Linked DNA regions of Homo sapiens. The protein of the gene in region 1 interacts with the protein of each later gene in a pairwise test. Each region holds a gene or a part of one and is shown on either strand. Other genes may lie near its edges.

What was found.
Region 2: the proteins of ATXN3 (region 1) and EDRF1 interact in binary tests that used the Homo sapiens proteins (3 or more experiments, as listed by UniProt).

What each region holds. Positions count from the first base shown.
Region 1 is NC_000014.9:92,086,083-92,089,582, reverse strand, and holds part of ATXN3 (ataxin-3 reference isoform), read left to right. Parts: intron 1-765; coding exon 766-853; intron 854-3,500. UniProt on the Homo sapiens protein: Deubiquitinating enzyme involved in protein homeostasis maintenance, transcription, cytoskeleton regulation, myogenesis and degradation of misfolded chaperone substrates.
Region 2 is NC_000010.11:125,726,208-125,729,708, forward strand, and holds part of EDRF1 (erythroid differentiation-related factor 1), read left to right. Parts: intron 1-2,795; coding exon 2,796-2,897; intron 2,898-3,150; coding exon 3,151-3,272; intron 3,273-3,501. UniProt on the Homo sapiens protein: Transcription factor involved in erythroid differentiation. Involved in transcriptional activation of the globin gene.

The DNA.
Region 1 (3,500 bases):
GCGGATCACAAGGTCAAGAGATCAAGACCATCCTGGCTAACATGGTGAAACCCTGTCTCTACTAAAAATACAAAAAAATAGCTGGGTGTGGCGGCGTGCGCCTGTAGTCCCAGCTACTCGGGAGGCTGAGGCAGGAGGATGGCATGAACCCGGGAGGCGGAGCTTGCAGTGAGCCGAGATCGCGCCACTGCACTCCAGCCTGGGCGACAGAGCAATACTCTGTCTAAAAAAAAAAAAAAAAAAAAAAAAAGAGTATTTAGCAGAGGCCAGGTGCAGTGGCTCATGTTTGTAATCCCAGAACTTTGGGAGGCTGAGGCGGGCGGATCATTTGAGGTCAGGAGTTTGAGACCAGCCTGGCCAATGTGGCAAATGTGCTGTCTCTAACTAAAAATACAAAAATTAGCTGGGTGTGGTGGTGCAGACCTGTAGTCCCAGCTACTTGGGAGGCTGAGGCAGGAGAATCACTTGAACCTGGGAGGCAGAGGTTGCAGTGATCCGAGATCATGCCACTGCACTCCAGCCTGGGTTACAGAGTGAGACTCTTCTCAAAAAAAAAAAAAAGTATTTAATAGTGATAAATCTGCAGTATTCTCTTGTAGTTTTTAAGATCATATTATTCAGTCAAAGAAAAGAGCTCAACTTGAAATATTTCCAGAGTTTAAACAATCTTACTAAGCTTTGATGGGTTGTATCTATTCTTAACATGTGAAACTTCCTTATTACCTATAATATACACTAACTTAAATATTGACAATTTTTTTCCAGTGGTTTAACTTGAATTCTCTCTTGACGGGTCCAGAATTAATATCAGATACATATCTTGCACTTTTCTTGGCTCAATTACAACAGGAAGGTAAGTAACGGCTGAACATTTTGTAATGTTACCTTTCGAAGTAGTTAAATAACCAGGCACATTAGATGACAGTGTGATAAAACTGTTTTTCTGGCAGTGGCAGTGAAACAATCTTTAGTTTTGACGTGGTGATAGGCTGTGATTTGGGTGACGCTGTTCAGTTAGAGTTCTCACTGACACCTGGCCCTTCCTCTTCTGAGGATGCTGCTTTCTTTGCAGCCCTTCTAAGTAATGGCTTTTTCTTTTATACATCACATATCACACGGCTGAGAGGAGGGATAGATGTTTTTCTTCTTTGCCTCTTCTAGGCCACTGTTCTTCCTTATAAACTCCAGTTTCTTTGAAATACATGCCCCTAACGGCTGGGCACGGTGGCTCACGCCTGTAATCCCAGCACTTTGGGAGGCTGAGGCAGGCGGATCACGATGTCAGGAGATCGAGACCATCCTGGCTAACACGGTGAAATCCTGTCTCTACTAAAAATAACAAAAAATTAGCCGGGGTGTGGTGGCGGACGCCTGTAGTCCGAGCTACTCGGGAGGCTGAGGCAGGAGAATGGCGTGAACCCAGGAGGCGGAGCTTGCAGTGAGCTGAGATCGCGCCACTGCCCTCCAGCCTGGGCGACAGAGCGAGACTCCGTCTCAAAAAAAAAAAGAAAAGAAAAAAAAAAGAAATACATGCCCCTAGATTAAACTATCCCTTGTCCTTTTGCACTCATCCACAAGTCTCTTTTCATCAGTGATTTTAGGATCTGACTCGTTGTCTTTTTCTCTACTTCAACTACTTTTATCATTCTTAATTATTTCTGTATCGTCAATCAATCCAGTACCTGCCTCTTAGTTTCAAAATCACTTACTCTTGCTTAGCTATTACCAGTAATCATAACCACTGTCAAATCTCAATTGCAAGCATATTACTCTTTAACTACCACCTCCTATCTTTAAACCATGTTTTGTCTGTTTTTTTATTCCAGCCATTCTTTAAACCCTACTGTGGGGCCCAAGCATTTCCTTTATACGCATTCTTCCTTTCTTCTACTGCTTATTTTCTGTAATCCGTCATCATAATCACTCCATTGCATTCTTCAACGTGTTTCCCCTCTCTCCCTCCATCATACTTGAATGACAAAAATCTCAACCCTGGTTAAACCACATCTTGGCCTTGTCCATTCCTGTACCAGAGTAGCTGGACGTGGCTAAAAAATAACATAAAACATGATGATTGGTTTTACTTTTTTCTTAAATGATCTATCCATCCATTCACCCATCCATCTATCAAAGTGACTAGGCCTATTTCTGAAGCCCAGGCTGGAGTGCAGCAGCATAATCACAGCTCATTGCAGCTCCAAACTCCTGGGCTCAAGTGATTCTCTTGCCTTAGCCTGTTGAGTAGCTGGGACTACAGGCTTGTGCTACCACACCTAGCTAAGGTTTTACTTTAAATTTATTATAATCACAAAATTCAGATGAGCCTTTAGTGCTGTCTGATATTTCTACTATGTTTTCTTAGTGATGTACCACCCTCCAAGGTGTTTATAAAAAATTATGTACCACTCTCCAAGAAGTTTATAAAAAATAATGTGCCACCCTCCAAGGTGACTAATTTCACAGCTTATGTCTTTAAACCTTTAAGCACTTTCCTCTCCCTTACACACCTTCCTTGTGGCTTTCCGTTACATTCTGCTGAGAACATAGAAGCAATTAAAATTATGTTCTTTCTACCAGCAAATTTATCAATTTGCTTATATCTTCACCTGTGCTTTGAGCCTATTTAAATAGATGAATGGTCCCCTACCTCTAACCAAAACCAGTCCCTCACTTGTGGGCTGGATCCCAGCTCTTCTCACCTACTCAAGATGTTCCTGCTTTCATCTCTCCACTCTCTTATATAATCAGTTCCCCCCCCCTTTTTTTGTAATATTCCTATAAGCAGTAAAATAAGCTTTTTATTTCCATTGATTAAAAATAAAAATCCTCTCTTAATTCCATGAAACTCCAGCTGCCTCCCCATTTTTATTTTTTCCTTAGGATTGTCTCTAGTGTGCCTTCTCCTTTTCTTGAACTCTGCCTCCTGGGTTCAAGCGATTCTCCTGCCTCAACCTCCCGAGTAGCTGGGATTACAGGCGTGCACCACCATGACCGGCTAATTTTTTTTTTTTTTTTTTGAGATGGAGTTTCCCTCTTGTTGCTCCGGCTGGAGTGCAATGGCGTGATCTCGGCTCACCGTAACTTCTGCCTCCTGGGTTCAAGCGATTTTCTTGCCTCAGCCTCCCGAGTAGCTGGATTTACAGGCATGTGCCACCATGCCTGGCTAATTTTGTATTTTAGTAGAGATGGAAGGGGTTTCTCCATGTTTGTTAGGCTGGTCTCCAACTCCTGACCTCAGGTGAGCCGCCCACCTCGGCCCCCTAAAGTGCTGGGATTACAGGCATGAGCCACTGCGCCTGGCCCCGGCTAAATTTTTTTTTTTTTTTTTTGTATTTTTAGTAGAGACAGGGTTTCACCATATTGGCCAGGTTGGTCTCGAATTCCTGGCCTCGAGTGATCCACCTGCCTCAGCCTCCCAAAGTGCTGGGATTACAGGCGTGAGTCACCTTGCCTAGCCATCTTTTAGTAATGGTATTTGGAGATCACAATTTGAGTGCTGG
Region 2 (3,501 bases), on another chromosome or scaffold:
ATCTGTCAATATTTGATAGACATTTCCTACCAAATATTGAGACTCAGAGACCCATTTGTAATTTAAGTTCTAACCTTTTTACCATAACTTTCAGTCAGATTGTTAGACCTAAAATATCCCTTTAAGGTTTTCCAGATAAAATTCCTGAAACTTAGTCCACATTCATGTTATAAAAGTTTTAGAAAAGAGAATGAACTAGGTTGTCCATTTTATCTCTTACATCCTTGTTTCTTCCTAATGCTTGTTTATTTTTGTACTTACTGTATCTATCAAAGAATAAAATAAAGCCATAGATGTAAATTGTGACATGTCTATTTTCAGGAAAATAGATTGATAAATAGATAATAAGATCTGTGACTTGATAAGTTACGTCTTCCCTCTTGCTGTTGTGTTCCCACATATTGAGCACTATTCAACCAGATTGTTTCAATCTTCACAAATTACAGGGAGCAGATACATTTAACTCGATTTTAGTTTCAGTAGGTTTAAGATAGAGAAAGCATCCCATAAAACTCCATAATGAATTTAAATTTCTTTCAAAAGTGAGAAAAATGTAAGGAAAAGGAAGTAATTAATATGCAAGTCACATAGTGGTAACAACCAAGAAGTAGGGATGTTCTATGATTCAGAAGGGAGAAAAGACTACATAATACAAATACTACCCTCCTATTACCCATGTCACCCATCTCCCAGTGTTGTTCTGTCTTTACCTTGTTTAGGAATTACTGTGAAAACTCTTGGAGAGTCGGGAATCTGTAGACTTGCGTGTTGAGGAAGCAAGCTGGCATTTACTGAATAGCTCTTATGCCATGTGTATGTTTGTACAAGGTTTTTTTTTTCATTCTTGGAGCTGCGTATTGTACAAATAAGTAAACTAACGCTCATCAAAAGATGTTTCACATGGTCATACAGCTGGCGAAACTCTCAGGCTAGGGCTTAAACCCAGATCTTTCTGCCTGCAGAGGCCTGTTCCTCCAGCAGTACTCCACTGTGTCCGTGTACTCCACACACAGCAAGGCCCTACTAACAGTCAGATCATCGTAGTAGTGGTGTATCCCTAGGCACAGCTAGCCTGCCTTAAGAGTCTCTTACAGAGTACTTTTCTTATATTGCTTAAATTTCAGCTTTAGAGATTTGTTTATATTTGCAAGCTATCTCTGCACAAATTCTTGTTCCAAAAACTAAAACTGCTGGCTTGAGGCCTTTGTTAAGCAGTTATAGAGGTTAAATAGGTGACTGTGGGATGGTCCTAGAGCCAGACATTTATTGAGAACGTTGTAACCTAGAGCTCATACTCTGACTAAAGCAACTGCCTGGCAAACTGTTTTGAGAATCGGTTCATGAGTTGATAACTTGTCTGTGTAAACAAATAATAAAATAAAAAAGAGTTTAAAGTTCTCTTAGGACTCCTGAGGGAGAGGACAAGGCACAATAGAAGTGCTAGAGAGCCACCTGTGCTTATAGTCACACACTCTTCCCAAGCAGGTGCCAAGCCTACTGGCACACACAGATGACAAGTAAGACAGATGTTTGTGGAATAAGCAACACACGCATGCCTGTCTTGGGTTCTGTTGAGGCAATGACATTAAAAGCTTAAAGTAGTATTTCTTAATGGCAGTACTACTTTCCTAATGATTGGAAAATTGAGTGGTAGGCTGAGTTTACCCAGTGTCAAGAGGGCCCAAGTGTATTCCAAAATGCATTCCAGGCTGGGCGCAGTGGCTTATGCCTGTAATCCCAGCACTTTGGGAGGCCGAGGTGGGTGGATCACTTGAGGCCCGGAGTTAGAGACCAGCCTGGCCAACATGGCGAAACCCCATCTCTATTTAAAAAAAGAAAAAAAAATTAGCCGGGCATGGTGGCACGTGCCTGTAATCCCAGCTACTCGGGAGGCTGAGGTAGGAGAATTGCTTGAACCCAGGAGGCGGAGGTTGCAGTGAGCTGAGATCATGTCACTGCACTCTGGCCTGGGCAACTCTGTCTCAAAAAAAAAAAAAAAAGTATTCCAGAGAATATCTTAAGAACAAAAAGTGTTCTGAGATTAAATACATTTGGGAAACATTGGTTTTTACAAAGATAAAGTAGATTTTTCTATTGCAGGATTACTTATTATATATTTATTGTTTTAATATCAATAAATATTGTTACTCCACAAAAGTGAGTACCTGGTAAACGTCATCTTTCAAACCTGACTCTGGAAAATTTTCATTCAGTTTCCCAGGAACTAGTGTTCTGTGAAACACTCATCAGGAAATGCTAAACTGGAGACTGTTAAGATAATGAGTATCTCAAACTGTGGCTGAGTAAGATTTCTTAGGGTTTCTTTTTTTTAAGAGACAGACTCTCATTATGTTGTCCAGGCTGGATTCGAACTCCTGGGCTCAAGCAGTTCTCCCCTGTCGACCTCCCACATAGCTTGGACTACAAGCACATGCCATCGTGCCTGGCCAGTTTCTTAGGAATTTTTAAATTCAATATAGATAGAGTAGGCTGAAAGAGCAGTGGTAATCAGATGCACCAAAAAAGAGAAAAATGAAAAACTTAGAAAGTTTAGAATAATCTTTAATCTATCTCTCTTGAGTAAGATCTAAATGTGATTCGCTTCTTATAGTAGCTATGATCATTAGCCAAAGCAAGCCACCCAATGAGGCGTGTTATTATTTGTATTGGCCTAATAATTCACAATGGTAGATTTGAAGTGTGTGCTTTGAATATTTAGGTGATACTCTCAAAAGTGGGTCAATTTTAAGAAATGTTGACAGCAGAATCACTCCTTATCCTTGCACTTTTCACAGGGAAGTGAGCCTCTTGAACCCTCATACATAGTGGGGCATGTGGCCTCAGCCCCCAAAGAACAAAACCTGATTACTTTATTCAATGACGGGGAGCACAGTCAGGTATGCTTTCCATGGTGTCCAAGGTGACAGCAAATCCCCAGTCTACTTTGTCATTTCAAAACTAGCCTAAGTCGAAATTGATAGGGAAAAACTCCACTTGATCCTGAAACTGCTTTCTAAGCATCTTTGTGATCTTAGCTCTGGGGCCTGACTTTGTCTTCTTTGTCTCTTCCTTTTTCTAGTCTTTTTATGGATCATGGGGGGAAATTACAGATTGACTGTTTATTATAATCCTCCCTATTTTAAATCACAGGGTCTTAAAAATGATTTTGTTCGGAATATTCTATGGACATTTGAAGATATCCATATGTTGGTCGGCTCCAACATGCCCATATTTGGAGGAGGCAGATACCCAGCAGTCAGCTTACGTCTCAGGTGAACTAACATCATACCCCTCCTCAAGCTTATGGTATTTAAATTCTTCCTTTAGAATCAGTGTTCCATCAGACTGAGGTTGCAGTGAGCCAAGATCATGCTACCGCACTCCAGCCTAGGCGAAAGAGCAAGACTCGTCTCAAAAAAGAATCAGTGTTCCATCTATTTGGGCATCTTCCTCTTTCTCTAGGTTTTTTCCCCTCCCTCCTTCCCCTGCCAGTTGAAATGG